Regions from separate parts of the Homo sapiens genome. Here all the other regions are linked to region 1. The links come from fine-mapping of genetic effects on gene expression. A gene starts in region 1. Each other region holds a variant in brackets. All regions are shown on one strand. Distances are from middle to middle. Region 1 holds the start of STX2 (syntaxin 2). Region 2 overlaps STX2 (syntaxin 2). Region 3 overlaps STX2 (syntaxin 2).

Region 1 (8,004 bases):
GAGATTTGCAATTCATCACCTTGAAACCAGGATGAAAAATAACGTTCTCATTTCTTTTAGGTCTACTAAGAACACCACACAGCTACTGTGTATTTATTGTTTATTATCATGCAAACAATTCCCACAGATGAAATGTGTGGTTTCTCTATTCTTCACTATAATAAATAGATATATCATATATATGTATCAAATATAAATACATCAATGTTCATAAACTTTTTTTAAAAAGTAATCAAAATACGTTTGGGGTGGTTATCTTATAGAATAGCTATTCCATTTTGCTTACGTCCTACAGTGAATTTCATTACACCTCGGTCACTCTTCCTTCCCAGGCTGCATGCATCCCCACCCACGCTCAGTTCACTGCTGTGTCTCTCTGCACCCAGCACATGATCTGCTAGAGGCCTGACATTCAAGTACCTGCTGGATGGGCGAGTCTTTTACTTTCTGTAAATCAGAAATATCTTTCTGGATTTAGAGTGTCAGAGATCTGGACCAAGTCACGCAAACTTTCTATGCCCAAATGACTGGTTGCTCAAAAACAGCATCACTGGTTAGAAACTACATCTGTCAGTACAGATTGTATTGAGCAGATTACTCTTTAAGCCCTGTCCACGTAACTGTCAGAGGCACGTTCTTCACAGGAACAAGCATCAGCAGCTAAGAAAAGAAACTTCATGGAAGCATCACAAATACTTTGTTAATCAGACATTGTTGATGAGGCATTTTAACCAACAAAATATTCAACTTTACCTAGAAAAAAACACCAGCCATTTACAAGCACGGTTGTGAGTACACATTCAACTACTCTAAGAACTACTGGGAAAGGACACATTTCCTGGGGCGGGGCGGGGGAGGGGAATTAAACTTGTATCTGGTAACTTTAAGATGGGTTTTTAAATATTAAAAGTTATTAAACTTCAAATTCAGTTTTAACTTACTATTTTATACTAGGGAGAAGGTTGTTCTTTTCTCTTTTTTTGAGACAGGGTCTCAATCTGTCTGTTGCCCAGGCTGGAGGGCAGTGGCAAAATCTTGGCTCACTGCAACCTCCGCCTCCTGGACTCAAGCAATCTTCCCACCTCAGCCTCCTGAGTAGCTGGAACCACAGGCATGCACCACTACACCTGGCTGAGTTTTTGTATGTTTTTTGTAAAGACAGGGTTTTGCCATGTTGCCCAGGCTGGTCTTGAACTCCTGAGCTCAAATGATCTGCCCACCTCAGCCTCCCAAAGTGCTGGGACTACAAGTGAAAGCCACTGTGCCCAGCCAGAAGGCTGCTTTTTATAACTCCCTAAAAACAAAAAATCTGGTAAACATTAATCACACTTATAATTACATAGCACTTGCTCCCTCCCACCTTCTCCCAGAGCTTCACACATTAGATAATTTTATGCTTCATAACTCCCTCTATGAGGTGGACAAGAGAGATACCACTGTCCCCATTTCACGTACAAGAAAAAGTTTTGAGAGATTTAAAAATTATTTGCCCAAGATGAGAAACTCCATGAGTGGAAACTTCCACGGATATACTCTCTGACTGCTCAGCTGCTGTGTCTAAAGCAGGATGGTATTGAAGTAGATGAGCTGACTTCTAGCTCTGCCGTTCTAGAACAAAACTGATTGACATGTTCTACTGTTTCAGGAAGGGTTTGGATATATAGAAACTGAGTGACAAATAATTGCCTTATTTGCTTTTTGCTATTCAAGCCAAGAAAACGTACTTTCTCACGATTCCCCAACATATAAATTTGGCTGTATTTTGCCAAAATAGTCACAGCTCTCACGTTCAATGACATTGAGCTTTTTTTTTTTTTTTTTATGAGACAATGTCTCACTCTGTCACCCAGGCGGGAGTGCAGTGGCATGGCACAATCATGGCTCACTGCAGCCTCTATCTCCTGGGCTCAAGGAATCCTCCTAGCTTAGCCTCCTGAGTACCAAGGACTACAGGTGCGAGTCACACCTGGATAGTTTTTTTGTGCGTGCTTTGTTTTGTTGGTTTTTCTGAAACAGAGTCTCTTTCTGTTGCCCAGACTGGAGTACAGTGGCACAATCTCGGCTTTCTGCAACCTCCGCCTCCTGGATTCAAGCGATGCTCCTGCCGCAGCCTCCAGAGTAGCTGGGACTACAGGTGTGCGCCATGACATCCGGCTATTTTAGTAGAAACGGGGTTTTGCCATGTTGGCCAGGCTAGTCTCCAACTCCTGACCTCAAGTGGTCCACCCAACTCGGCCTCCCAAAGTGCTGGGATTACAGGCATGAGCCACTGCGACTGGCCTCCTGCTAATTTTTTAATTTTTTTCGAGAAACAGTGTCTCCCTGTGTTGCCCAAGCTGGTCTCCAATACCTGGGCTCAAGTGATGCCCCCACCCTGATCTCCCAGACTGCTGGGATTACAGGAGTGAGCCACAGCTTTTCTTCATTAAATAAATACCTGAGCTCCTACTACACGGCACTGAAAGATAATCCATCGGGCAAGACAACACAACTATAATTTGCTGTGTTTAAGATGATATTGATCTGCGGAACACAGGGAATATTTGTCCATTAATAAAAAAGGAAAAATCACCGTGAAGAAACTTCCTTGGAATGAATATAAAGCATAATTTCCATGATCCTAAGGATGAAATCATTGCCTTTCTCAACCAGAGCTCCTCATCTGAACCACAGAACACAGATAATGATTTAAGTGGCTCTTTTCTCTATTCTCCCACTCGGGGGTACATAACAGCTCCATTCTAGCAGCAGAGGAGAGAGAATAATTCATTACATGCAGTGGGTGTCGTAGGGCTGTGGGCCTTAGCACCCCTGTTCTGAGGCTGCCAACAATTTAGAGACCAGAGGCTCTATCTGTGCACACACGTAGCATGAATTAGTACCTGTATTGTAAAGGGAAAAAGTCATAACTACTTCTGCTGGCCTAAGCCGTCCTGGGTTAGACAAGCTTGGAAAGTGCACGACCATCACTATCATTCCGCTGTCACTGCACCATGCACAGTCCTGTCACCTTTACACGTGTAGAATGCATCGAAATCCTTCCAAAATTTTTAGTGACCTGCTTTTCCCTTGCTAAAGTAAACAGTAACTTGCTGTGTGCCCGGCTGCTGGGCGCGTAAGGTGCGTTCAGAGTCAACACACGGTCCCAGTTTCCAAAGCAAACTACTGGGAGATCAGACACAAGCTGCTGTTCGCGCTCGCCCCACCCCAAGCACCCAGCACTCTAAGGTGCCCACATTTCACACCCATCTGTTGCCTCCCGCTTGGTGCACAGTCCTTTGTGAAGCCCCAGGGATAAAGCAGCGACCAAGAGGACCCGGCCTGCTCCCCGGGGCTGACGCCAGCTGCGGGGACCCCGTGGGGCGGACCACAGTTAGGCCAGTGGGCTCCGGCTGGGTAAGCGCCAGATACAATCCGCCAAGCGGAGTGACGGACAGGGAGCCACGCTCGAAGAGGGGGTCGAGGCCGGGACCTTCCCCGCTCCCTCCTCCTGCCCCAACCCGCCCTGAGGACTCCGCCCAGGAAGCCCTGGGGACCCCGCCCGGAGCCCCCACCCTAGGACTCCCGGGACCCCCGCCCTGGGGACCCCACCAGCAGTCCCCGCTCAGGACTCCCTGAGACCCTGCCCGCAGCCCCCGCCCCAGAACGCCGGAGATCCCCGCCCTGGGGACCCTCCCGGAGCCCCGCCCAAGACGCCCCGAGCCCCCGCCCGCCCTCCAGACGCCGCCCCGGCCGGGCCTGAACCGCTACCCGCGGCTGCCGCTCACCGCCGTCAGGTCTGGCAGCCGGTCCCGCATCCCCGCCGGCCGGGCAGCGCGCCCCGCCGCTCAAGCCTGTCCCGAGCTGCCTCCGGCCGGGCCTCGGGCTCTCCGGTCTCCGCCTCAGGCCCCGCGGTCCCGGCCCGGCGCCAGCAGCCCTCCCTGGAGCCGGCGCTGCCACGGCAACCGCGCCCCGCGCGCTCTGCGCATGCCCGGCCCGCGCCGCGCCCCGCACCCACCCACACGGCGGCAGCGCTTTCCAGCGGGAGCCCGGAGGGGCGGGGCCTGGGGGCGGGGCCTAGGCGGGGAGGGGCGGGGTCCGGCCGAGCCCCAGGCTGGCAGTTCCGCTACACGTGCTGTTTGTCCCTTGATCTGCTTTTATGCTTTCACACTCATTGTTTTATTTATCAAAATATAGAGCATTCAACGAATAGTGACAAAAGAGCAAAGCTCCCGGAATGTGCTGGGTGCAGCTTTGGGTAATACATATGCCGAACCTTCTCTTTAAGGGTCCACGCGCAGCCTCGGGTGTGAATGAAGGAGAAGAGATCGTGTACCACACATGATGCTTACGGAGCATAACACGGCAGGGGGCGGTAACGGGAAGAGCGTCCGCAGGCCCAGCCCTGGGATACCATTCTGGCAGGAGAAACAGGCAATACAGACACAGACAAATAAATGATAGATGAGAAAAGAAAGTAAGGGCATGGGCACGGAACTGGCAGAGAGGTCGTCATGAAGGTGCAGGAGCTTAGGTGAACTACCCAGGTTGGGGGAACAGTCCCCAAGACCATTATCACCTCTGACACCAACGGCAAATTCTGGCGGTTTCCAAAACCACCTTCAAGTTCCATAATTTGCTAGAAGGAATCACAGAATACACTAAAAACTACTGTACTCACAACTATGGTTTCTTAGCAGGAAAATGATACGGATTAACATCAGCCAAGGAAGAAGGGCAGAGGGGGAGTCTGGGGATTACGGCGTGCAGCTTCAAGGTCCTCCCGTGGTCCTCTCCCTGTGTAGTCAGGCCTCATTACTTGCCCTGCACTGATGTGTGGCCTTACACACGAAGTACTGCCAGCCAGGGAAGCTCACTTGAGCCACAGTGTGCAGAACGTTTACTGGGCTCCATTGCATGTGCATGATTGATTGATTGTTTGATTGCTTTCATGCTTGATCTCAGCCTCTTGGTTAAGTGATATCCATGTAACCCTAAGCCCCCACCATAAATCACACTGTTACTCTCTGGCTAGCCGAAGACTCCCAGGCAAACAAAGATTGCCTTCCAGGAGGAGAAGGCAAGGCCAGATTTGTTTTTAAACAAGGTTAAAGTCTTTACTGCCTCCTGGAGGAGGTGGCTTTGGTCTGACCAGAAGGCAGCGCTAAGAAATCTGCTTGAGAGCAACAGGCTACACATTAAAAAACAGGACGTTTTGGACTTGGTTCTAGGTGTGATGTGGTTCTGTTACCCGATGGAAGGTCTTGACAGCCAGTTGTCCAGGTGAGTGTGGTGGCGGGCACCTGTAATCCCAGCTACTCAGGAGGCTGATGCATGAGAATTGCTTGAACCCGGGAGGTGGAGCTTGCAGTGAGCCAAGATCGCACCACTGCACTCCAGCCTGGACAGTAAAGCGAGACTCCGTCTCCAAAAAAAAAAAAAAGATATGTTTTTTCTCTCCATATCCTGAACTTCCCCACCAGAATGCCTCCTGGACCCCGCAACAGGCAAGTGCTTTTCTTTCGGCCTTCTTGCCTCTGCCACCACCATTTTAATTCTCCCTCTCTGGTAAATACTGGGCCCTCCCTCGTTTCTCCCTCTCTCCCAGTGGATTTTTCAAAAACATATGATAATATTGGCAGCAGCTGGATGGTGTTGAATTGGCAACCAAAACTTTTTGTTTGTTTGTTTGTTTGTTTGAGACAGAGTCTTATTCTGTCTCCCAGACTGGAGTGCAGTGGCATGGTCATAGTCCACTGCCGCCTTGAACTCCTGGGCTCAAGTAATCCTCCCACCTCAGCCTCCAAAAGCACAGGGACCACAGACATGAGCCCACCATGCCCAACCTCAAAACTTTCCTTATCCTGCCAGAGAAAAAAAATGAAGTTGTGAATAATCGTTGTGGGAATTCAGGGACCCTGAATGGAGGGACCGGCTGAAGCCATGGAAGAAGAACATAAATTATGAAGATTTCATGGACATTTATTAGTTCCCCAAATTAATACTTTTATAATTTCTTATGCCTGTCTTTACTGTAATCTCTGAACATAAATTGTGAAGATTTCATGGACACTTATCACTTCCCCAGTCAATACCCTTGTGATTTCCTAGGCCTGTCTTTACTTTAATCTCTTAATCCCATCATCTTCGTAAGCTGAGGAGGATGTATGTCGCCTCAGGACCCTGTGATGATTTTGTTAACTGCACAAATTGTTTGTAGAGCATGTGTGTTTGAACAATATGAAATCTGGGCACCTAGAAAAAAGAACAGGATAACAGCAATGTTCAGGGAACAAGAGAGATAACCTTAAACTCTGACTGCCGGTGAGCCAGGCGGAACAGAGCCGTATTTCTCTTCTTTCAAAAGCAAATGGGAGAAATATTGCTGAATTCTTTTTCTCAGCAAGGAACATCCCTGAGAAAGAGAAAGCATCCCTGAGGGTAGGCCTCTGAAATGGCCGCTTTGGGGGTGGCTGGGCATGGTGGCATGTGCCTGTAGACTACTCAGGAGGCTGAGGCAGGAGGATTGCTTGAGCCCAGGAGGTTAAGGCTGAAGTGAGCTGTGACTGTGCCACTGCACTCCAGCCTGGGCAACAGAGTGAGACCCTGTCTAAAAAAATATATATATACACATACACACATGCACTATAAATATATAGTATATACATACTATACACACACATATAGTGTATACATGCTATATACACACATATAGTACATACAAGCTATATGTATATACAGATCGCAGCTGTAGGGATGAAATAAGCCCCAGTCTCCTGTAGCCCTCCCAGGCTTATTAGGACGAGGAAATTCCCGCCTAATAAATTTTGGTCAGACCAGTTGTCTGCTCTCAAACCCTGTTTCCTGATAAGATGTTATCAATGACAGTGCCTGCCCGAAACTTCATTAGCAATTCTAATTTCTCCCCGGTCCTGTGGTCCTGTGATCTCGCCCTGCCTCCATTTACCTTGTGATATTCTATTACCTTGTGAAGCATGTGATCTCTGTGACCCACACCCTATTTGTACACTCCCTCCCCTTTTGAAAATCGCTTATAAAAACTTGCTAGTTTTATGGCTCAGGGGGCATCACGGAACCTGCCGACATGTGATGTCTCCCCCAGACACCCAGCTTTAAAATTTCTCTCTTTTGTACTCTGTCCCTTTATTTCTCAGACCGGCCAACACTTAGGGGAAATAGAAAATAACCTACGTGAAATATTGGGGATGAATTTTGCCCAATATCTGGCTGAATTTCCCCTGATAAATAATAATGTGTAATTTATCATTTTTGTTCATATTACATACATACATATGCAGTCAAGGTGTTTTTGGGGTCAAAACATCAACCAGATCACAACAGTGCGTTCAAAACACCATCATAACAGCCAAACACTAAAATTGAATGAAATCTACATGGAGGCTGAGGTGGGAGGATTGCTTGAGCCCAGGAGTTGGAGGCTGCAGTAAGCTGTGATCATGCAACTGCTCTCCAGCCGGGTCCACAGAGCAAGACCCTGTTTCTAAAAAATAAATAAATAAATAAATAAATGTTTAAAAAACTTAAAGAAGAAAACGCGAAAGAGGCAGAGGAAGAGGAAGAAGGAAAAAAGAGAGGAAGAAGGAAAAAAGAAGGAAGAAAGAAAAAAGGAAGGAAGGAGAAAAAAGGAAAAAGAAAGGAAGGAAGGAAGGAGAAAGGAAATATGGAAGAAAGAAAGAAAGAAGAAGGAAGGAAGGAAGGAAGGAAGAAAGAAAGAAAGAAAGAAAGAAAGAAAGAAAGAAAGAAAGAAAGAAAGAAAGAAAGAAAGAAAAGAGAAACAAAGGGCTAAGTTACATTCCCGAGAAAATCTGACTGGAGCCTGGGCAACATAGCAAAACACTGTCTCTGCAAAAAATTTTTAAAAATTAGCTGGGCATGGTGGCATGTGCCTGTAGGTTACTCAGGAGGCTGACGCAGGAGGATTGCTTGAGCCCAGGAGGTCAAGGCTGAAGTGAGCTGTGATTGTGCCACTGCACTCCAGCCTGG
Region 2 (8,004 bases), 26 kb before region 1:
AAATTTAAAAAAATTAATCCCTAAACTTCAAAGAAAAAATAAAGCAAACCTAACAGTAAGTCAAGTTAATGATATAAACATACAGAGGAGCCGGGTGCAGTGGCTCACGCCTGTAATCCTAGCACTTTGGGAGGCTAAGGCAGGCGGATCACTTGAGGCCAGGGGTTCGAGACCAGCGTGGCCAACATGGTGAAACCCTGTCTCTACTACAAATACAAAAATTAGCTGGGTGTGGTGGCGGGTGCCTGTAATCCCAGCTACTCGGGAGGCTGAGGCAGGAGAATTGCTTGAACTCAGGAGGCGGAGGTTGCAGTGAGCCGAGATAGTGCCATTGCACTCCAGCCTAGGCGACAAGAGCGAAACTCCATCTCAAAAAAATAAACACACAGAGGAAAAACTATTCAAAGCAACTTTAAAACCCAGTAATTTGTAGCTGGACACAGTGGCGTGTACCTGTAGTCACAAGTGCTCGGGGGATCACTTCAGCCTAGGAGTTCGAGGCTGTAGTGCGCTATGATCACACTGGTGAACAGTCACTGCACTCCAGCCTGGCCAGCACAGCAAGACCCCAGGTCAAACAACAACAACAACAACAAAAAGTAATTTGATTATCTAGCCCAGTGGGATATACCTATAGACAAAAAGAATGACACAAAAAATAAAAAATAAACCTTTAAGTAATCATACTCTTGACAGTAGATGCTGGCATAATTATTTTGAGTCTGTTGTGTGTGTACTATGAATAGCAAGTGAATAATTATGTGTCAGTGAGAACCAGAATTTGGGGCATAGTTGAAAGGAAATAAAGATGTAATATTGCCCTTATTAAGTAAAAATCCTTTCAAAAAAATTTTTAGTCCTTCCTTTATTCTTAATTTAATTTGGATTCTCAGTAACAAATCATGATTCATTTTATCTTTTAAAAAAATCTTAGCCCAGTCCACTGAAAAAGCCTAGGAAAGAATGGTCAGGTCATCGTCATGTATAGCAATACATTCCCCAGCATGCTGACCTCGGTGTCTAGATCACATTCTTCAGACACAGGAGCAGGGCTTCCTGGGGAAATGGCTGATGCCAGGCCCAGGGAGGAAAGGGGTGAAATGAGCATGGGGACTTTTGTCACAGCAAAAAGTGGAAAGGCTGTCACAGACAATGAGGGGCCTACCAAAAGGACTCAAGAGTCCACCCTACTAGCCAAAGAGACCATCTGAGCATTAAGGATAATGCAGCAATGAAAACATCAGATGTGTTTAAATCCATGTGTTCACGATGATGGACGACAAGCAGCAACAGAGACTCTCCCTGGTCATCTCTGGAGGACCCCAGGGAACTGACCTATGAAAATTATACCAGAGAGAGAGAGAGTCCAACGCTGATCCTCTCTGTCCTCCATGATCTGTGACCCAGAATGTGCTTTGGCTCCCTTGGTTGGAGAAGCCAGGTCATTCGTCCTACAGAACCTGCCACACTGCACATTTTGCTGATTTCACCCTGCAACACATTCAGTAAGCTCTGCTGTCCTCTGTATTTACTGTGGGCTCATAGTTAAATTCTCCAAACTACCCAATTCAAGAGTTGAAGGGGAAAGGTTTCTTTTTAACTATTCCAGCAACTAAACAAAGAAGGAAGAATAAAATCAGGATATTCATGCTTGTAATCCCAGCACTTTGGGAGGCTGAGACTGGCGGATCATTTGAGGTCAGGAGTTTGAGACCAGCCTGGCCAACATGGCGAAACCCCATCTCTACTAAAAATACAAAAATTAGCCAGGCGTGGTGGCGGGCGCCTGTAGTCCCAGCTACTCAGGAGGCTGAGGCAGGAGAGTCGCTTGAGTCCAGGAGGTGGAGGTTGCAGTGAGCCGAGATTGTGCCACTGCACTTCAACCTGGGTGACAGAGTGAGACTCTGTCTCAAAAAAAAAAAAAAAAAATCAGGATATTACTGCTTGCAACTTCTAATGAATTATGGATCTTGGAAATAATCATCCATTTTTGACAATATCACAGAATAGAAAAGAATGTTATATCTTATTTAAAATTTTACTGAACTTACTTAGAGCCAAGAAAAAATGTTAATGTCACCATTAACATCTTTTTTTTTTTTTTTTTTTTTGAGATGGAATCTTGCTCTGTCGCCCAGGCTGGAGTGCAGTGGCGTGATCTCGGCTCACTGCAAGCTCTGCCTCCTGGGTTCACGCCATTCTCCTGCCTCAGCCTCCTGAGTAGCTGGGACTACAGGCACCCGCCACTGCGCCCAGCTAATTTTTTGTATTTTTAGTAGAGACGGGGTTTCACCGTGTTAGCCAGGATAAGTCTCGATCTCCTGACCTTGTGATCCACCCGCCTCGGCCTCCCAAAGTGCTGGGATTATAGGCGTGAGCCACCGTGCCAGGCCACCATTAACATCTTAACGTAACCATGAGGACATAAAATCTGTAATCAGATGCTGCATCTTTACATTTTAAAAACCCACAAAAAACACCTGAATCAGATAAAGCTTGGAGAATTTAACTACCAACCTACAGCAAATTCAGAGGACGGCAGAGCCTATTAAATGTGCTGCAGAGGTAAAATCAGCAAAATCTGCAGCATGGCAGATTCTGTAGGACAAATGACCTGGTTTCACCAACCAAAGGAAAAAGTGCAGAGAGAAAAATCATGAAGGGAGAATCTCATTTTTAAAAGCCAGGGTTTGGTCCTTATTTGGGACTCAATTCAAGCAAACTGTTTAAAAAAAAAAAATCGTAAGACCACTGGGGAAATTCTGCCTGGATATTCTGTACTATTAAGTAATTATAATGAATTTGGGTTTAGATATAATTGTGGTTGTGCTTTTGGGGAAGCTTCTGTTTTTGAAATACACACTGATGAAATCTCAGATGCCTGGGATGGGCTTCAGAATAGTCTGGGAGCGGGTGCGGGTGGGAGCTCATGGAGAACTGTGGAGCTGGGGGGTCGGCTTGTGGTCGCCTCTCTCTGCTTCTGCACACATCTGAAACCTGCCGTAATAAAAGTATTTTATCATCTGCACAGAGATTGTTTTTGATCTTGATGCCATTCTGCAAAAATCAAATACAACATGTTTTCTACCAAATCGAGAAAAAGCAACCTCTGTTTAAGTCCCCTGTTTTACATGACAAAGCTATAAGCCTCCCAAAAAACTACTGCTGCTAAAGTGGAATGCCAAACATCATCGAATAAATTCTACAGAAAGTTTGAAAGAAATGAGCAATTAAAGGGTCCATTCA[A/G]GAAGAGCCTGGCAACTCACCTTCCCAAACATCTGCAACTTAGCCTGAAATGTCATCAAAAATGTAACAGTATAACAGTTTATAAGCAAACACATAACCTTTTTGAATATTAATTAGTACTCTGAATTACATACAAATAATTTATTTTAAAGCAGTCACTATTTTAATTTTTAAAAATGTAAAAGAACAAAAACCAATAAAGAAAAAAATAACAAATACCCATACTCCCAACATCAATAATTAAACATAAAACTTCAAACTTACCCTTTAACTTGGCTCGAATTTTATTCGCAGTTTTCTTGATTTCTTTGTTCAGATCTTCAAGCTCTTCTTTTATTTCTATAAAAATTTAAAATTAAAAAATAAAATACAGCATCTGAGCTATAATATCCAACATAAATGATATCCAATAAATTTAAGTGAAACAGTATCCTTAGTAAATATTCACTTTTTTTCTGTAAGAAAAACTACCGCTTATACCAGTGGTTCTCAAGGTGGGTCCCTAGACAGCAGCTTTCATAAATATCAGGTGGCAGCTTAGTAGAAACACAAATCCCTGGGGCCCACCCTGGACCTACTCAGAAACTGAGGTGGGGACAGTGGCCCAGCAATCTGAGTTAGCAAACCCTCCAGGTGACACAAGTTTGAGACTTGCTGCTCTATACCCATGAATGAAACTGCTGCCTAAATCCACTGCTAACACCTAGACCTGGGAAAGGAAAACGGAGACGTAACGATGATCTCAACAAAGTCTCCCGTGTGTGTGCTTTTCTCTTGTGCTGTCAGCTGTCTCCCCAAAACGCCCGAATAATCACAGCCACCACTTCAGGGCTGCTGGGCCGGTCGCCCTGGCCTGGCTTCTCAGACACTCAGGGCTGCAAGCAGGGGGCGATGGAGGCAGGGGCCGGCCTCCTAACACGGAGGGAGGCCAGCAGAGCAGGAGCTGACACTCCAGGGCAGTGCTGAGACCTAAGGCCACCCAGGGCGTCATAGCAGCCTCTGCTTTCATGCCTAGCTGCCCCAGAGCCCAGGGAGGGTGGCAGGATGTCTGCTCCATGCCGCACACTCACATTTGCCAGTCCAGTGGCTGAAGTGACCAGAAGGGAAGGGGGTTTCTCTCTCCTTTGGGCAGAAGTTGCTGAAACAGGAAGGCCCCCGCCCCGTCTCTGGAGTCCTGTTGTCGTTTTAGAGAGTCCTGCACTTGCCTCTCTCACTCAATCTCACACGCATCAGCCGGGGAAAAGGCAAACGTTTCTGCCGTAGACAACTTGGCCAAGAATGAAAGCTTTCAGAGATGCCCACTCTCTTCCTGACACCCCCTCAGCTGAGCATACGCAGGGTGCCCCGAGTACCCACTGCACACAAGCGTGTGCTAAGTCTTCTTTCCATGCTCAGCTACAGTCATCAGACGCAGCCTGGCTCGTCCAGGGTTTCAGAGCCAGATCAGAGACTGAGTGATCTCCAGAGGTGACAGGTCACGCACCAGTGACACCTACTGAGTACTTTCTGTGTGCAGGCCCGTGTCATCTAAGGAGGCTAACAAGACCGCCAGGGACCTAACAACTCGGTAAAAACAGACAAGACAAACCCAGGAAGCGCCAATGCCACGCAGAGACTAACAACGGACGAGACAGGGTTCACAAAATGCCATGGGCAGCGAGGAGGAGAAGCGTCTGCTGCAGCTGTCCCACAGGAGGGGACATCTGACCTGGGAGTGGAGAGACTGGTGGCTTCCATTCCAGGCAGAAGAAGGGTCTATGGCACAGAGCAGCGGGACGGTGGGCTGTAGTGACTGGCGTGGGAGGAGGCCAACTACAGGCTGCCTGGGCAGGAGTGTGCAGGCCCAGCTGAGTTTGGGGCTTTTACTGAGGGCACCAGTCAGCACTGAAGGTTTCTCAGCAAAGAAAGGCATCAGCAAAGATGCATTAGAAAGACTTTTTTTTTTTTTTTTTTTTTTTTTTGAGACAGAGTCTTGCTCTTGTCACCCAGGCTGGAGTGCAGTGGCACAATCTCGACTCGTTGCAACTTCCGCCTCCTGGGTTCAAGCGATTCTCCTGCCTCAGCCTCCCAAGTAGCTGGGATTACAGGCCTCCGCCACCACACCCAGCTAATTTTTGTATTTTTAGTAGAGATGGGGTTTCGCCATATTGGCCAGGCTGGTCTTGAGCTCCTGACCTCGAGATCCGCCCACCTCAGCCTCCCAAAGTGCTGGGATTACAGGCGTGAGCCACTGCATCCAGCCTAAAAAGATTATTTTTAAGCAAGGCACAGTGGCGTGCACCTGTAGTCCCAGCTACTTCAGAGGCTGAGGCAGGAGGATCACTTAAGCCTAGGACTTTAAGGCCAACCTGGGCAACTAGCAACATGCCATCTCTATTTAAAAAAGGAAAGAAAAAGAAAAAACAAAGAAAAATTATTCTGATAATGGATGAAACTAGAAAAAAAGAGAAACTAGACACAAAGGGGTCATTTCGTGATTCTCCTCTGTGAACATGTTTCTAAAGGGAGATTCTCAGGGGAATCTTTCTACCACCCCAAGGGGTATTCTGAAATTTGTGGGGTATTTCCAGTCATCATAAAAAAGGGAGAGCCACTGGCATCCAGAAGACATAAGCCAGGAATGGCACCAGCCAGCACCACACAACAAAGAACTGGCCTCCATCCTCCTGTAGTTCCTGAGCGTGACGACGGGGTGTTCGTGCGCGTGTGAGATGTGCCACCCTCGAACCTCATTACATCAGCACATCACCCACTGGCCTGCATAACTGCCAGATGCACGCTGCTCACTCAGGCAGGAGAAAAGACCTGTTTTCCTGAGCCCAGAACCTGACTCCAGCTTACAAATAAGCCCTGTTTTCATCTGCATCGTTTCAATATCCAGTGGATTTTCAGGAATGCAACTGCCGTGTCACCGCTCTGCATGGCGAGAAAGCTGTACTTCAGTCTATTTCAGTGACACCTACTGCCTCAGGAAAAGCACAGGGAAGCCTGCTAACGGCAGCTGAATCACAGCACCTCATCAGCTTGCAGCCTTGGCTGTGACAGTCACAGCACTTGTTTGTAGGGGGGCAAGCGCCTGAATTTTGTTTTCTGGTGTTGTGCCTGAGCCTGCACAATACAATTTGTACTTCAATATGTAAGTTACTTCCATTTTATGTCTCCTTCATATTAGTTTGGATATTATATGTTTTTTTAAAATCATGGAGGTAGGTAGGCTATATCATCTATGAACTTCATTTTAGAATAGTAAAGGGAACACAAAATGCCTTATAAAATGGGGCATTTGACAGGAATTAGAGAGACTTGCTATGAATAAAGAGGGTGGCAGGTCCATAGTTTGTGGCAGGGGTGCTGGCTCCTGTGGTGCGTGAGGCTGATGCAAACACCCCCAAGGCCTGGCCACTGTGCCTGGGGAATGAGGGCTGAGTGTAGGAGTCGAAGCTAAAACGTACACACAGCAAGGGCATTTGTGCAGGGGTCCGGCCCAGCCAGCGCCTGAGCACAGCTGAGGACGACTAGACTCGGGAGACGGTCTTGAGCCACCGCGCAGCCACAGAAACCACAAGATCTGAGAGCTGGGCCTGCCAGTGGATGAGAGTCTCCCTCTTGAGCTGGCGGGCCACAGCAGGACTCACTCCCCTGGGGAAAGAAAGCCCTTGGCCGTTACACAGCAGGGGTGGGGGGCACTCATGACGGAGTGAACTTGCTGCCACTACAGGCCCACGGGGCTTGAGCAACTCATCAGCAAAACAAAAGAGGCACTGCCTGTCTGATCCTGCAAGCTGCAGACGCAGGCCATAAGGTCACATTTGATAAAGGTGGTATTTCAAATCAGAGACCAGACGGGGATCAGGAACCTCCTCTTCCAGCGGCCTAGGTGATTCAGCTCAATCCTGCTGCTGAGAACAATTAGAAAGGGTAGACACAATACTCTTTCTAAATCTGTGTAAAGCCATTAGAAACCTAACAAGGTGCGAAAATAAATAAAATAAAATAATTAAAAAAAGAAATAAAAACAAAAGAAACCTAACAAGGCAGGAAAGAAGACTCAGAAGAAGAAAACCCAAAGACATGGGCCCCACTTTTGCAGCCACTTTTACCTGGGGGCATGTGCCAACTCCATAAAAGGCAGCTGAGCTGCAGAGAAGCTGAGAAAACTGTGCTGACTTGGAGAGACAATGCCCTAGGAGGAACAGTCAGGTGGGAAGCTGGCCCTCGCAGGGGCTGAAGCCTCAGTCTAAATCATCTCAATCCCTAAAATTAGATCCAGAATTGCTGGTGCTTCTAGCCATCTGCCAGAAATAAAAATAAATCATCTCTTTAAAAAGAAAATACCATTCAGGACTCAAATTATTACTGCAAATAATTCCAATACAAAGCTCAAAACTCAATCAAAAATAACCAGGCAAACAAAGAAAAAAAAAAACACATGAATGAAAACCCAACAAAAAGAGACAACACTAACCCATCCACAGAGGCACCAGCTAATAAAGTTACAAGACACAGACGTTAAAACAATTACATTCAAAGAGATAAAATGTAAGATCATAAATTTTGTCAGAGAATAGGACAGTATTAAAAGGAACCAAGTGGAATTCTAGGAGTTAAAACCAATCCAAAAATAATTCCATAGATGAAGAAAGATTCCCTGACCTGAAAGACAATCGCTGAAGAGAAATCAAACGATAAGTCAGGGAAAACATTTTCAAAATAAAATATATAGAGAAAAAATGATGAAAAATAGAGAACAAAAGAGGA
Region 3 (8,004 bases), 36 kb before region 1:
GTACCACTGCACTCCAACCTGGGCAACAGAGCAAGACCCTGTCTCAAAAAAAAAAAAAAAAATAGGCATGGTGCCTGAGTTTTTCACACACATTCTCATTATAAAGTTCTTCAAAATACAGTGTTTCTTAACAAGGTTGCTGAAGCAGGCAGGAACAATCCTGTGTGTGGATGGATTCCTATCCTTACACAATCCAGGCAGTCTCAGAAAATAAGCCCATCAGATGTGAACCTACTTAGGGGATGACTCCAGCCAAAACAGATCCGAAACCAGGCTCAGGACAAGTGAGGAAACCATTTACTTAGGATGGTTTGATATAAATGCTTCCGCTTCACCTGGTGGTCAGCTGAATCCTAACCAGCAACAGAGTCTTATCTCCATGGTATTTGAAAAATAACGAGAAGACCTTATTCAAAGACAAAGAGCGAGTGTGAACATACCCATGCACATCACAGAGCATGTGATCTGTGATCCATCCCGTACTTTACATGGAGAGTTCAATATATACATACATACATATATATGTGTGTATTTTTTTTTTTTTTTTTTGGAGACAGGGTCTCACTCTGTCACCCAGGCTGGAGTGTAGTGGCATGATCATAGCTCACCACAGCCTTGAACTCATGGGCATAAACAATCCTCCCACCTCAGCCTCCCAGAGGAGTTTTCTATTTATTAAGAATTGCATTAACTCTTCGGTTCACTCAGAAGGGCCTTTCCACACCTGCTTTCACTCCCTATCTGTGTTACTGGGCAGATGGGAAACCCCGTGTAACAGGCACAAGCTTGCATCTGTGTCATAGATTGTATCCCCACTTGGGGTTGATTCTTTCAGACATTTCTCCTAGTTATTACTGTAATATATGCTTCTTATAGAAAATCTGAAAATAAATACTTTTAGAGAAGATTAAAATTCCCATAGTCTCACTGCCATTACACTGTTTGATATACGCCTTTCCTTCTGTGGATACTGTTTTATGGAGCCAAGCTCGTGCCATGTGTTTGTGTTTATGTACTCATACATATGTACGGGCATACACAGAAGATCTTTGTATCTCCCTTTTCTCTTAATTCTAGCACAAACATCTGCATATTTCAGTAAGAATTCTCCATGAACAAAGTTTAGGTTGCCTATGGTTGCCTAAAAGGCTGACCTATGAACACTCCATAATTTAATCAACTGAACCAGTCCCTTCCTGTTAACAGTTCAACTGTTAAAGCTGCTTCCAGCATTTCAGCATCACATATAACACTGCAATTAACCTGAATTTGGTGGATCCAAAATAACAGCTTTCCTAGATACATCCACTAGACAGAGTGGGATGCAGTAAGATTTTACACATGACTGATATCTCTCTTGGAGAATGCAAGAGTCTGTAACTACCTGAGTCTCCACAAACATAGCCATGTCCATGAACATCTCATGCAACTCTCGGATGCTGGTCTCCAGCTTCATGATGTCCTTGTGACGTGACTCGATTTCATTGAGAGCTTGTCTAGTAATTTGTGAATCTGATATAATCTTGGAAAAACAAAAATAAAAGATAATATTAATAAACTTATGATGGGTTTGGAAGTTAAAGGGTTTTTAAAAAGCTCTGTCTACAGAAGAGGACATGGAGCCACAGGGCCGCACCCCCACTCACGTCGGAAGTGAAGATGGATGGCTTCCCGCTCTCCAGCATCTCTTCTAGCTCGTCGTCTGTGGTGGTTCTCCCAGCTGAAAGACCCGCAACCACAGCCCCACTCAGAATGCAGCACAATTTAAAAACAAAGCCATTTGCAACCATAAGTTAGCAACTACAATCATAGTTGTTAGCATTTTTCAGTAATTTTTTTAACCTTTTCTTAAGCAGATATTGACAATGAGAAGTGAACCTAAGATTGAGGAGCAAGAAGAAATAAAAATACTCCGAGAAACTTTGTAAATGTTATAAACAATAAAATTTCATTTTAATATTAGTGAGAAACAACTGCAGAAAGGAAATCGGTAAACAATGTCTCGGCACACTGGTTTCCCTAAGAGTTTAACTCCGCCTCATGTAAAAGGGGGTTGAGCTGAATGTAGCATGTATTAAATGAGGATCAATAAAGTCCACGTAATGAGAGTCAGATGCCTGAACACTTTCCATGTTTGGAAGTTAATGCTTTCCTTTTGAGTTAAATGTGTAATGACTTCGAAGAAACATGTACACAGGTTTTGGAAACCTAATTGTTAATTACTATTTTTCATAGTTTGTGCCACAGAAGACAAAAGTAAATGAATAAATGTCATAATTCAAATGTCATCTAATAAGCAGCATTATTCATAATTGCCAAAAAGTGGAAACAACGCAAACGTCCGTCCCCCGATGCCTGAAGGAGCTAACTGCGGTCTAGCTGCACACTGACATACGACTCAGCCACAAAAACAAAGGACGCTTTTGGTTTTTGTCGCTTTGTTTTTTGAGACAGGGTCTCACTCTGTCGCCCAGCCTGGAGTGCAGGGGCACCGTCGCAGCTCACTGCAACCTCTTCCTCCCGGGTTCAAGCAATTCTCATGCCTCTGACCCCTGAGTGGTGGGGACTACACGCGTGCGTCACCACGCCCGGCTAATTTTTGTATTTTTAGTAGAGGTGGGGTTTCACCATTTTGGCCAGGCTGGTCTCGAACTCCTGACCTCAAGTGATCTGCCCACCTCAGCCTCCCAAAGTGCTCGGATTGCAGGTGTGAGCCACCGTACCCAGCCCTTTTTATTTTTTTAACAAAGATACGGTCTCACTCTGTCACCCAGACTGGAGTGTAGTGGTGCAATCTCAGCTCACTGCCGCTTTGACCTCCTAGGCTCAAGCAATCCTCCTGCTCCAGCCTCCCAAGTGACTGTGATTATAGGCACACACCCATGCCTGGTTTATTTTTATTTTTTTTTACAGAGATGGGGTTTTGCTATGTTGTCAAGCTGGTCTTGAACTCCTGGCCTCAAGCGATCCTTCCACCTTGGCTTCCCAACCAACACGCTGGGATTAGTATACATGTGAGCCACCACACCCTGCCCACCCCATGGTGAAACCTTGGAAAAACTGTGTTACAGGAAAGAAGTCAGTCACAGAACACATAGTGTATAATTCCATTTATATGAAACATCCAAAATGGGAAAATGTACAGGAGTAAAAAGTAGAATGCAGTTGTCTTGGGCTAGGAGAGGAAATGGGGAATGACTGGTGGTGGGTGTGAAGTTTCTTTTTGGGTTGATAAAAGTGTTTTAAATTGATTGTGTGTGGAAATACACCAAAAACCACTGAATTAATTGTATGCTCCAAATATCATTCACATATTAAGAGATTTACTTCTCAATAAAGTTGTTGAGATGTCATTTAATGAAAAAAGTTTTAAAGTTAGTAAATTGCAAAATTTGTTTACTTACACTATTTTTTGGGAGGTAATTCTCAATCATTTAAAAATCTATTTGAGAGCACACATGGTGGTTTACATGTATAATCCCAGTGCTTTGGGAGACCAAGGTGGAAGGATTGCTTGAGGCTAGGAGTTTGAGACTAGCCTGGGCAACACAGCAAGACCCTATCTCTACAAAAAATAAAATAAAACTTAAAAATCTATTCAAAATAGCTCAATAAGGAGATTCTCTGAGTTTTGCTTTGCTTTTTTAAAAACATGAAACTTGTTCTAAATAATGTAAAATATAATCATCAAAACTAGAAATTTCAGCTTGGGCAACATAGTGAAAACCTCGTCTCTACAAAAAATAAAATTAGCCAGGTATGGTGGTGTGCTTCTGTGGTCCCAGCTACTCGAGAGGCTGAGGTGGGAGGATCCCTTGGATCCAGGAGTTCAAGGCCACAATAAGTGGTTATCACAACACTGCACTCCAGCCTGGGTGACAGCGTGAGGCTCTCTCTCAAAAAAAAAAAAAAAAAAAAAAACAAACTAAAAGTTACAGTTCATGTCTCACGTTCACAAAGGTCTTCCCACCGGCTAACTGCTAAGTCTAAGAAACAGCCTGGGGTTACAGAATGTGAAATGCAGTATACATTCGTAATTCCTTATCCAGAATGCTGAAATCCACAACATTATGAAAACTGGGTTTTCCTTAAGCTCGATGTCAAAATTCAATGAGCGGCAAAATCTGACCTAAACTGAGTCATGGCTATTTATAATCTTAACTCCTCCCCCTTACTGTGAATACTCACATTTCACTGGAGAGCTGTGTGAATGTGCCTGATTACAGGGTGCAGTCCTAGACCCCACCTGGGGATTACATAATACACCTCTTATACATTGTACTATCTTCCTAAAATCTGAAAAATTCTGAACTCTGAAACACATACAGCCCCAACCATTCCAGAGAAAGCACTGTGGACCTATGTAACATGCCCTGGTCCAAGAAGAAACTCACTTGCCATTTGAAGAAACAAAGCATACAGCACAGGAAAAGATATCCTGTGATACAAGGTAAGAAACCTGCCTGATGACAGGGCTGACGGAAGGAAGAAAGAAAGGGGACAAAATGGTTTTAGGTGCAAGGATTTGGAGAAGACCACTGTATGAAGACAGCCCGCTGTGTGGCCAGAGTGACGCCATCCTGAAGCAAAACCACCGTGATGACCGATGCTCGACTCGTGCATGCCAAGCTGTTCTGCAATGAGGTCTGAAGACGATGCCTCCGGCACAGGCAACCTCTCATCAAGATGCTCATCCAGCCTGACCAGTGGTCCCAAGTGTTGTCAAGCAAGTCAGAAGACAGGGCCGGCTGCACACGTTCTACCCTGAAAGCCTGCTGTATAAAGAACACTTT[C/G]TGAGGGCAGGCGGCTGTGGGGTCCACCGTCTCTGTCTCTCGGGGGCTTCTGTTCGTACGTCCCTAGCCAATGTTTCCTTCGAGAAACTGGATTTGTTAGCCTCTTTCTTTGGCGTCTCAGCTCGCTCAGCCTTTGGGGGTGAGTTTGCATAGACCTGCTCACTTCGGAATAGCCACATGGAGGGTTTAGAATTTAACAGACTTAAAGGAATTACTAAAAAAAACTCCCAACACGTATATGATACTTCATTGCTTATAAGACACTTTCACAAACAGTACTGCATTCGATAGAGTATGATTGCAAGAGAAGAAACTGGAAATGAATTCTGTGGGCTGAGATAGAATAATGTGGGAAAGAGAGAAGAGACTTAGGCGATCTGATCACGCCACCGGATTCACATGGGGAGTGAAGACAGGATGGACCTGCAGGAGAGATGGTGCGGGGCCTTCAAGCCCAGGCTGGGGAACTCTGTGCTAGAAAAGCGCTCACCACAGAGTCCCAGAGCATAAATCCTCACAGTGCAACCGGCTGCCTGTAATGATGACTTTCACTTTAAAAAGTACTAACAGATCCCTGAAGTCAAAGTGGTTTGTAAAAACTTTTTCATAGAAAAGCAGTCTAGTCGACATCATGATTGAGCATTTCTGCCAGGATGGAGCAACAGGGACCGTATTTTCCCTGCCACTTGAAATAACCACAAACCCACCAAAATCTACAAAACGATTTCCAAGACACTGAGCATCAGGCCACACACTGATTCCCAACAGATGGAAACAAGCCAGGTGAGCCTGCTGCTGCCCTCAGACGGAACTCTCGTGTCAGCCACAGAGCAGAAAGGGCCCAGGTGGAGCCCAGGGGAAGTCCTAAGGCAAAGGCACAGAGCTCAGGGGAGACCAAGGCAACTGGATTTGCAAGATGGAGTATGAGAGATGAGAGAGATGCAGAGAGCGAGCTGCACAGACCCCGCATGCTCACTGGAGTGCTGACCAGCATGCCAGAGGGAACACGCTGCCAGGCAGACGAGGGTGCCATGAGGTTCACGGCCATCAGAGCAGGTGCTCAGAAGGGTCTTACCTCAGGAGTGAGGAATGACAGGCCCTCAAATAAAGCTGCTCTGCTCCCTCTAAATGCAAGATCCCAAAGGCTAAACCATGCTCATGTGATTTAACTACATTCTAAAACAAAGCCCAAGGAGATTTACAAAAATACTCAAAATACAGAAATACTCAGCACCCAACAAAGTAACGTTCACAATGTCTGGCACACACTCGAAACTTACCAGGCTCGCAAAGAAGCAGGAAAACACAAGCCACAGAAAGGAAGGAAATCAACCAACCAGAGCAGACAGGACACTGGAGTTGGCAGACAAAGACGGTTCAAGTTACTACAAGTGCGTCCCAGTTGTACAGTGGGGAGCAACACAGCAGACATGTAAAACACCCAGCAGAACTAGCAACAGAAACCAGTGTCTCCGATGAAACATACACCAGAGGAGGTTAAAGGCAGATCAGACAAGCAAGAGAAACTGACCAAAACCAAACACACTGGAAAAGAGTATCTAAAACATGAGGAGCCTCGCTGAGCTGTGGGACAAGGTCAAGCGGCCTGGCGGGCATATGACAACATTCTCTGAGGGGGATGTGCGGCGTTGGGAGCCGGGATGGGCCTGAGGCTTCATCTGACCTGCGAGCTGACACGCTGGCCTGCCAGGGCTCCGTGGGGGCCGGCAGAAGGTCCAAGGCCCCAGGTCAGGGACAAAGGGATTTCCTACTCACAGCACAGCAGGCAACCTGAGGCTCATGAGCAGCTGTCCACGGCCCCCAGTCTCATGGGGAGAGGCAGAGCAGCTGCAGTGGGACGTCCTCACAGTGGGTTTGTGTCACAGCTGAAGGACCCGAGCTTGGGAACCCCAATCTTTCACAATGGGGAGTCTACAAACCTGACCAACCTTTATCCCTGAAACAGACCCGTCTGTCCCCGAAGAAGGCGCCATCTCCACTGCCACAGCCAACTGTCCCCATAGACACCCCTGAAAAGAGTCTGGGGCAATAGGGCCGCTGCCTCTGCTCACAGACAAGGAGAGATGTGAGGAGCCATGAAGATGCCCCCGAACCAGGGCAGGGCGGGACTGAGGACACAGAAACACTCAAAGAGGAAATGACTGAGCACTCTCCCAATCTCCCTGAAACTCTAAAAGCAACAGCAATGAGCAAGGTAAACCCCACCGCTTAGGACTTCCTGAAGACAGGAAGAACAGGTTTGCCTGACTCACGGCATAGGAAGCTACGAGTGGTCTTTGGGTTTTACACTATTGGTGAAAATAGACATGGATTTCCTTTTCTGAAGTTAAAGTCATTTGAAGTGAGACCTTAAGGGAGAAAAACATGATTTTAACAAAGACGGAGTCTCCATTACTCACTTATCTCCAGCTGGCGCTGGATGCGGCCTTTGCTCCGCTCCCGAAACAGAGTCTGTGCCTCATTGTACTCCGCCATGGCTTCCACAAACTTCCGAGACAGCACCGAATGCTAACAACACAGGAAAACTACATTCGTATCTGAGGGCCATGCCTTCTACTGAAAGTGACATGCAAGACATGCATTTTGGAAACTCAAACTACATGTTATTCTGCTCCTGCAAATGGAAAATGACAATGGCAAAGTCCCCATGGCAGCATCTGTGCTAAGAACTTTGCATGCATGATCTTACCTAATTTTTACAAGACCCCTACTATGCCGGTCACAACCCTACTTAAAGAAAACCATGACTTTGAGGTCATTAGCCCAAGGTCACAGGCTTTTCTGATAAACACAGATCAGCACTGGGACCCAGGCAGGTGGACCCCAGAGCCCGCGTGCTTCATCGCCTTGTGCCCATGAGGGGACCCAGGCAAGCGGACCCCAGAGCCCGCGTGCTTCATCGCCTTGTGCCCATGAGGGGACCCAGGCAGGCGGACCCCAGAGCCTGCGTGCTTCATCGCCTTGTGCCCATGAGGGGACCCAGGCAGGCGGACCCCAGAGCCCGCGTGCTTCATCGCCTCGTGCCCTCGAGGCCTCAGGGCTCTGTCTTCCTCTGGGCAGTACCACAAACCACTAAAACGTGGCGGCCTTACCACAAACACTAAAATCATTTGGATAATTCCCTACTCTTTGGAATAGAACTCTGTTGATGGACCGAATAGATTTTTCTTCACAATAAAGAGATTTCTAT

What was found. PIP is the estimated chance that this variant, and not a neighbour inherited with it, causes the effect.
Region 2: its variant is fine-mapped to the expression of STX2 in whole blood (INTERVAL, PIP 0.92).
Region 3: its variant is fine-mapped to the expression of STX2 in whole blood (TOPMed, PIP above 0.99).

What each region holds. Positions count from the first base shown.
Region 1 is chr12:130,835,303-130,843,306 of GRCh38, forward strand. STX2 (syntaxin 2) reads right to left here and starts at 3,948. Exons shown (of 11, transcript NM_194356.4): 1 at 3,768-3,948. The coding sequence starts at 3,797. RefSeq lists silencers at 3,512-3,571, 3,642-4,151.
Region 2 is chr12:130,809,447-130,817,450 of GRCh38, forward strand. It overlaps STX2 (syntaxin 2), which reads right to left. Exons shown (of 11, transcript NM_194356.4): 4 at 3,511-3,585. It also overlaps the pseudogene LOC124903117. Among named protein-coding and RNA genes, the nearest start is that of STX2, 26 kb to the right of the region's middle. RefSeq lists a silencer at 2,237-2,420 and an enhancer at 4,423-4,662. The variant A/G (reference allele first, on the strand shown) is at 3,247.
Region 3 is chr12:130,799,769-130,807,772 of GRCh38, forward strand. It overlaps STX2 (syntaxin 2), which reads right to left. Exons shown (of 11, transcript NM_194356.4): 6 at 7,214-7,322; 7 at 1,647-1,720; 8 at 1,385-1,522. Among named protein-coding and RNA genes, the nearest start is that of STX2, 35 kb to the right of the region's middle. RefSeq lists an enhancer at 6,126-7,048. The variant C/G (reference allele first, on the strand shown) is at 4,794.